2 separate regions of the Homo sapiens genome follow, and region 2 is linked to region 1. A link means that fine-mapping ties the variant in region 1 to the expression of a gene that starts in the linked region. Tissue or cell type: subcutaneous fat. Region 1 holds a variant in brackets; the other region holds the start of a gene. All regions are shown on one strand. Distances are between the middles of the regions.

Region 1 (4,000 bases):
TAAAACCTTTCCACAGCTCATCCTTTCTTCCAGCCATTAGGTCCAGCACCAAATTCTTTCCTTCTGCCTCTCCATTACCAGGACTAGTTAGTGCTTTAATGTTCCTTATTATTCACGAATTATCTGACCAAAATAACCCAGTCATTGTTAAAATTAATTCCTCTGAAACGGTTTAAAAATACGGCACATAAAATTTAATTAGGCTAATAAATACTTGGAATATTGTTAAGATATTACAAATGAAGGATACAGGAACTTATGGTCTAGTGGGGAATTTACAGTCTAGATCAAAACTATAGCCGCCAAGGAAGAAGACAAAGCAAATGCAGCTTTGCCATTGAAGAGGCACAGAGCGCTGTTGGAGCACCAAGGAGAGAGATATTATTTCTGTCTGAAAGGAGAAGGGAAATGCTCATAAAGGAGGAAGATGGTAGCTAATTGAGATAACCACCGATTTGTGAACACCACTTCTTTGAATGATCATTATGAAAAATATCTATGAACTAGATTCTTCTCTACATAGAAGTTTGAACAAAGCATTAAATGTTGAAGGCAGGAAGTTACCTAAACTACTAAATAAAAATAATTTATTTTTGTTATACCCTGACGTCTGTTAATAACAGATAACACTTCCTTGAAAGTCAGAGTTTCAGTTAAATACTGGGTAGAGAGTGAATTAAAAAGCAATAAACAAGTAACCCTTGTATACTTACATAACATCGTCTTTAAAAAGAGTATCCAGTATCAAAGTCAAGTGCCAAGGCTAAGGGAGGCAGCCTGGTGCCCTGGAAAGGGCATACATAGGCTTTGCCTATGGAGAGACCTATGTTCAATTGCCGGCTCTACCATTTGTTAGCTCTGCATGCTTTGATTTGGGCACTTTATCTTTTTCTCAAAGTTTTCAATTCTTTTCCTATAAAAGAGAAATGTTTTTAGATCTTACTAATGCACACACCTAGAAACTTAAATTCAGTGTCTGAAAAAAAATCACGGTTTAGCCTAATAATTTTGTTAATTTATTTCATTTTCTTGAATTGTGGTGTCTGATGCCAACCTTTGGAAGGCTAAGGCGGGAGGACTGCTTGAGCCCAGGAGTTCAAGACCAGCCTGGGCAACATAGTGGGATCCTGTCTCTACAAAAAAAACAAAAAATTAGCGGGAGTGGTGGCATGTACCTGTAGTACCAGCTACTAGGGAGGCTGACGTGGGAGGATTGCTAGAGTTCAGCAGGTCGAGGCTGCAGTGAGCCGATTACAGCACTGTACTCCAGCCTGGGAGACACGAGATCTTGTCTCAAAATAAAATAAAATAAAATAATTTAAAAATTTAAACAAATCACTCTCTCCCTTTCTCTCTTCCTTGCTTCCTTATCTCCCCTCCCTACTCTCTCATTGTATTATATATGCTGCAATTCTATCCACAGGTAGACTAGCTTGTAATCCTACTTACTGAAAATTTTACTAATAAATTTCTCACATAATAATAAAAATAAGGATAATAAAGAACACCAAAGAATTAATACTATCCCCGGTAATGAAGAGACAGAAGGAAGCAATCCATGTCCCATCTGAGGGTTTGAGGAAAGAAGAGGAGGTATGGAAGCCTTCAGATGGGGCAGCAAGGTACATTTTTCACAGATCCTCTAAGGTTTTTAAGAGGACATATTTTCCCTAGAGATTCTCCAAGACACACCTGCCAAATACAAATTTCAAATTGCTCTCTATATGCTAGTGTTCCTGATTTGTATGGCTGATAATTGCCTTTTAAAGGGGCTTCATATTTAGGATCACACCTTACCTTCTCCACACCATGACGAACCTGGGGCAGTAAATATCACCACCCCATGTAGCATTTCATCAGCACACAATATCCATCCTACGCTGAGTTTTCCTTGGTGCCCAGCTAACTAGTGTTAGAGCCCAGCCTTAACTCAGATGTTGAGTAATTCCAATTGCTAGGCATTCTGACCTCAAGCTTGTGGGGTGCCCTTCCTGATCTTTCTTAATAATGACAATATCACCTACCTTGTCCCAGACAAAATGCCAAGTGCTTAGCATGCACTCTTGATTACCTGTAACCTCAATGCACATTAGGAAAGACTGTGCTTGCTTTACAGATGAAGAAATGATGAGGCTCAGATCGGTTAAGAAA[C/T]TCACCTTAGATTGGGTGTGATGGCTTATGCCTGTAATCCCAGCATTTGGGGAAGCCAAGGCAGAAGGATAGCTTGAGGCCAGGAGTTTGAGGCCAGGAGTTTGAGACTAGCCCAGGCAACACAGTGAGACCCTCTACAAAAAATAAATTTAAAAAATTAGCCAGGCATGATGGTGTGCCTGTAAGTCCCATCTACTTGAGAGGCTGAGTAGGGAGGATTGCTTGAGCCCAAGAGTTTGAGGCTTCAGGGAGTCATGATCATACCACTGCACTCCAGTGAGAGAAATTTGCCTTAAATCACATCGTTAGTGAATTCCAGAAGCAAAGTGCAAACCCAGGCACATTCTACATATTTCCCAAATGTCTTTTTCAAATCAATGTCACTGCAAAATAAGAAAAAATAAAAAACTAATGTCACTGCAACCTTCCTTTCCATTGAACTTCCATTGCTTTCTGTCTGAGTCTTATTTAGAAGGAAGTCTGCAAACTTCTTCCCTTCTCCACTCACCATTTCACTGTAAGGTCTTTATGACCAATAAATGACTTGCTGTATTTTTCCTACAATGCCTAGCACTGTAAGAGCTTAGACATATTTTTAAGTGATTAACACCATTTTTGAAAAGCTGTCCCAAAGAAACCAAAGCTAGGCCTGTGACTCCAGGTACTTCACTCCTATTGAAAAGTAGTAAATAATTAAGAGAAAGCATACAAATTAGTAGAATCTTAAATTTCCATAGGAGGCAAATAAGTAACCCCATTTTTATTTGCCAGTGAAGTAAAAAATGTGATCACTTACATGCCCATTTATGCCCACTCTTACCAAAATCTTTGAGGTGGCCCATCCATTTACGAAGACACAGTCTACTGTGAGTAGACATCCGCAGAAACTTCTAGATGATGATATTTTCCAATGCTAATTATTTGATAAAGAAGTTTAAAGGAACTCATAGTTAAAAACTCTTTGCTATTGTGAATAGTGCTGCAATGAACATACAGGTTCATGTATCTTTATAATAGAAGGATATATATTCCTTTGGGTTGCAGGAACATAAAACTAAATACTGCGTTCTCACTTATAAGTGGGAGCTGAACAATAAGAACACATGGACACAGGGAGGGGAACAACACAGACTGGGGCCAGTCAGGGGGTGAGGGTTGGGAGAACATCAAGAAAAATAGCTAATGCACACTGGGCTTAATACCTAGGTGATGGGTTGATAGGTGCAGCAAACCACCTATCAAACCATGGCACATGTTTACCGATGTAACAAACCTGCACATCCTGCACATCTGCACATGTATCCCAGAACTTAAAATAAAACAAACAAACAAACAAAAAACTCTTGACATGCATTGAATCAGTTCAGTCTCTTCTGTAGCTTTCAACCAGCTGCTGTGCTGGTTATGGCAGATCTCTCTGTGAATGTAACCTTCACGTGTTGCTGTTGTTGTTGTTGTTGTTTTCATTAATGTTCTTAGGAGTCTGCTGTTCTTCCTGGACACTCAGAGCAGGAACAGGAATACACAGAGCCTCAGAGTTGGCAAAGTTTATTATTTGACTATCCTTTTTCAAGGGGGGAGGTGGACTCAGGCTAACATACAATATCCTGTATCATAAAGTTCCAAATAGTAAGTTCCAAAACCAAATGAGAAGTTTTCATTGTTTCTTGAAGAAATAAATAAGATCACAAAACAGACAGCTTAATCTTTTGTTGATTGTTTGTATTTAAGGTAACATATTAATATAAATTCATCTCAAATATTTAATAATCCTTAGACACCAGAAACAGAATAATCTCTTCTTTTGATGGGGAGGGGCTGATATTTGGGTTGTGATTCACTGTCTTGG
Region 2 (4,359 bases), 75 kb after region 1:
CACTTCAGATGCAATATAGAAATGAAACTAGACAAGATTTTATATGAACAAAATGCAAATTGATTTATAATAGATAAAATAGGTAATGAACTATGAGAGTTAGGCAAAATCACAGAAGGTACCCAAACATGGAGAAAATCGCTTTGGCAAAAATTGAAATATTTTGCTAGCCTTAGTTATTTATTATGAAGTTGTTTGGTACTAAAGATGTTAGCAAAATTTACAAAAAGGAAAAAAAAACAGGCTGATCTAAGATGGGCTATTGACTTTTTTAAAGTATATAATTTTTTTATTTTTATTTTTAGAGTTAAAATACATTCAAACAATGCAGCAAAGTGCTATTCCAATAAAATCTTTGGAATTTAAGGGAAAAGCAAAAACTTTTGTAATTTTGACTAGGAAGAAGAAGTTCATGTCTAAGAATCTCAAAAACAACTTTGCGTGTGTGTGTGTGTGTGTGTGTGTGTGTGTGATCTCACTCTGTCACCAAGGCTAGAGTGGTGCAATCACAGCTCGCTGCAGCTTCAAACTTGGGAGCTTAAGCAATCCTCCTGCCTCAGCCTCTGGAGTAGCTGGAACTACAGGAGTACGCCACTGTGTCTGGCTACTATTTTTCTTTTGTTTTTTTTTTGTTGTTGTTATTGTTGCTGTTGTTTTAGAGACAAGGTCTAGCTTGTTACCCAAGCTGATCTCCACCTTCTGTCTTCAAGTGCTCCTCCCAACTTGGTCACTCAAAGTGCTGGGATTGCAGGCATGAGCCACCATGCCTGGCCTCAAAAGCAAATTCTAATGAAAATATTTTCTGCCCAGTGTTTTTCAACATAGGGTTTGACTGAGGAGACTTTTGAAAAACTTGAGGAATGTATCATTGTTTTTGGTTTGCTTTATAATATGCTAGTATTGAAAAACTCAGAAGATGAAAAAATTAAGAAATACCATATATATTGTAAATATATATTGTATATATATAGAAAGAGAGAGAGACAGAGACACAGAGAGAGAGAGAGCTCTGAAAGAAAGTGGAAGTCATGATATACATTATAAGAAAATTTAAACTAGTTTTAAGAATCTGTGATAGTGATTTGTCATAACTGATCACATTCTAATGTTTTAACATGGTATGAAACATTTTTGGTTCATTTCTGAATCTAAGTATTGCTTTAAGAACTTTTATTGACAATTTTAATAGCTACTGACTCAAAAGAATAGTTTTCCAACTTAAAATAAATAAAAATGTTATTTAATGAAAACTCAAGAAAGATTATCTTCTCATTAGCTTCATTAGAATGCAGATTATGTGAAAATTTTGATTACAACAATGATATGTGATTTTGCTGAAATAAAGGAAAGTAAATTTCACAAAATATTTAAGATAATTTGTCTTTATATTACCATCTATCCAAAATTGCTAACCCTTCAGCAGAACACTCAGATGTATAACCGTAATTGTTACAGGCATCTCTATAATCATAGATGTATACATGAGTTTCTACTTTGTATTAGAAAGGTATATTTATATTATAAAGCTACATTTATTATATTTTCAGTTATATGAAAATATAGCTTTGCATGTATTTTTTAATTTTATTAGGGTTGGGCAGGAGCTAGAGATAAAGGTATTGGAGTCATCACTTGGATTCATAGACATGGATGAGCCGTAAAACTAATGGGGTCCTTAAAAATTATGTAATATAACCACTTCCTCTTAGATATTATGCCAGATGGTTTAACAGTAAAAAGAAGGCCTATCATGACTAATTTCATTTTGCTCCTAACCCCATCACTGCAGTCATTTCTTTTAGGTTAACTGCTTTTGCTTATCTCTGCATGTAGGCAAAGCGAACTATGAGAGGTATTTCATTTATAGTTTAAAGCAAGAATAATAATAGTTTCTTTCCCAGCACTAACCCCCTGAGGAGATAAGAGAGGATGCATGTGACTAACAATGTTATGCTAAAGATTTATAGGAACATTGTGACCTGACTTACATCATCCAAAGCCAACTGATTGAGAAGAAAGAAGATTGAGAACCTCCTCGGACCCTCACTGCCACCCAGATGTCCGTGGTCATAGGTCTATTGATCTTAATGCCCTCCCTCTTCCCCTAACATAAAAGGAAAATAAAATTCCTGAAATTCATATTTACTTAAGATGTTGCTTAAGGACACTAGTTTGTCATCTTCTCGGTTTGCTGGCTCTCCAAATAAAGTTGCCTTCCTTGCCCCAACACCTTGTCTCTGTACGTATTGGCTGTCATGCGGTGTATTAGTTCATTCTCACATTGCTATAAAGAAGTACCTGAGACTGGATAATTTATGAAGAAAAGAGGTTTAATTGACTCACAGTTTCTGCATGGCTGGGGAGGCCTCAGGAAAGTTACAATCACAGTGGAAGGCATAGGGGAAGTAAGCACACCTTCACATGGCTGGCAGGAGACAGAGTGAGAGCAAAGGGGGAAATGCTACACACTTTTTAACAACAAGGTCTTATGAGAACTGACTATCACAAGAACAGCAAGGGGGAAGGAAATCTGTCCCCGTGACCCAATCACCTCCCACCAGATCCCTCCGCAAACACTGGGGATTACAATTCAACATGAGATTTGGATGGGGACATAGAGCCAAACCACATCATGCAGTGAGTGATTATGAGCATTGGATTTGATTACAATGGCATTATTGTCCTGTTCAAAATGATCACAACTTGTTTGAATCACAGCTAAGACTAGAATTCCTAGTTTTTTCCATATAATGTTTGAATATAGGCTCTAGATTTTGTAACTTAAAATTCTTGAAATTAAAAGAAGGATCCTCAATTAATATTTAAATTGCAAGAATAGAATGCCTTAAATTAATTAAAATATTTTAATGAAAAATTGAAACCTCAACAAATATGCCTTCAGATGTGTGTGTGTGTGTGTGTGTGTGTGTGTGTGTGTGTGTAATGCCCATGTTCCAAGGCATTTTATATCTTAAAAATTTTATATCTTGAAAATTATTTCTTGTATTTGACATCTGATTAACCTTTCCTCAAATTAAAGTGCAGTTGACCCTTGAACAACATGAGTTTGAACTGTATGGATCCACTTATAGATGGATTTTTTCTTTCTTTTTTGTTTTTGGATTGTGTTCAATTGAACTCAGATCAAAAATGCGTTATTGAGGTGATGCAAAACACATGAAAAATAGAAGGCCAACTTTTTGTGTACATAGATTCTGCAGGGCTGACTGTGATACCTGAGGATGTGTGGATTTTGGTATACTGTGGAGTGGGGTCTTGGAACCAATCCCCCACATATTGAGGGATGACTATAAGTTATTTAAAAAATAATAATAAATTAAATAGGAAACCACTGAACTCATTGAAAGCTTATAAGTATGCATCAAAGGGAGTTAACATCTGTGTTTAAGGGAACAAAAAGGTTTTTATTCAGTACACAGCAAATTTCTCTGCAAGCCAAGAAACCACTCTTCACCTCTGGTTGCCAGTATGGTCTGAGTTTGCTTGGCAGGACAAGGTCAAACCTTGTAGACACACAGGCAAGTTAATCTTGAGATGGGTTTTCAGGGGCCACACTGAACCATGCTGGGTTGTTAGCAGGACTGGCCCAGGTAAGTCCATTACAAGGAGTGAGAGCCAATGGGGACAAGGAGCAGAGCCAAATGACAGCACCAAGGGAGCAACATCAGCCTCAGATTTATCGGGCAAGCATACAATCGCAGGCAGGAGCGTAGGCCAGATGTCAGGAATCAAGAACAGGAACAGACCAGGATATGAAGGGCCAACAGACAGCAAGAAATGATAGGATCAACTCCAGGGTACATGGACACAATCTAATTTGGTGCTGGCCACATGAAGCCAGAGATGGTCAGATCAGCTGAGTTCATGGCTCAGGGCATGGTCAGACAGTAGAAATGTAAAAAACGAGAAAAAAATCGTAATGACCAACTTCTTTTTTAAAAATCAGGTCTCTAAATACACCTAAAAAAAAGATCTAGTTGGTAGCCATATGTGCCATCCCTATCCCAAAACACCCCCGAAAAGAAACATTTTAAATAGCCATTTGTGTAATTAAATTCTTCATGAATTAATTTTGCCAAGTTGGATTCTTTGCCTCACTGTATCCAGAGGATATGTGCAGAAACCTCAAATGCCCTTTCTCTTGTCCGAGAAAGCTCTTGGAATATGTTCTTTTCTATTGGCCCGGACACAAGAACACTTAAAAATAAATTCTCAATTAAAGATTATAAAAGACAATCTAGAAGATTTCACAACATTTCCTTGATAACAAGTAAAAAAATTCAAATGTTTGACCAGAGGGAAATCAGGATGAAAATGTCAAACTCACTACTCCGGAGA

Which allele goes with the higher level. Positions count from the first base shown, and alleles are read on the strand shown. Sizes are in standard deviations (SD) of each study's normalised expression.
For the expression in subcutaneous fat of the gene that starts at base 2,448 in region 2, C is the high allele of the variant in region 1 and T is the other (moderate effect, 0.60 SD a copy in FUSION).

The links. PIP is the estimated chance that this variant, and not a neighbour inherited with it, causes the effect. A credible set is the group of variants that fine-mapping cannot tell apart.
Region 2: LINC02066 starts here. The variant in region 1 is the best candidate, but not a certain one, in a credible set for the expression of LINC02066 in subcutaneous fat (FUSION, PIP 0.63).

Annotation. Positions count from the first base shown.
Region 1 is chr3:151,625,479-151,629,478 of GRCh38, reverse strand. The region is part of intron 1 of LINC02066 (long intergenic non-protein coding RNA 2066); the gene reads right to left. LOC105374157 (a long non-coding RNA gene) reads right to left here. Exons shown (of 3, transcript XR_924581.3): 3 at 3,866-4,000. Among named protein-coding and RNA genes, the nearest start is that of MIR5186, 61 kb to the right of the region's middle. The variant C/T (reference allele first, on the strand shown) is at 2,152.
Region 2 is chr3:151,550,246-151,554,604 of GRCh38, reverse strand. It overlaps LINC02066 (long intergenic non-protein coding RNA 2066), which reads right to left and starts at 2,448. Exons shown (of 5, transcript NR_183765.1): 1 at 2,344-2,448. It also overlaps a transcript of IGSF10 not described here.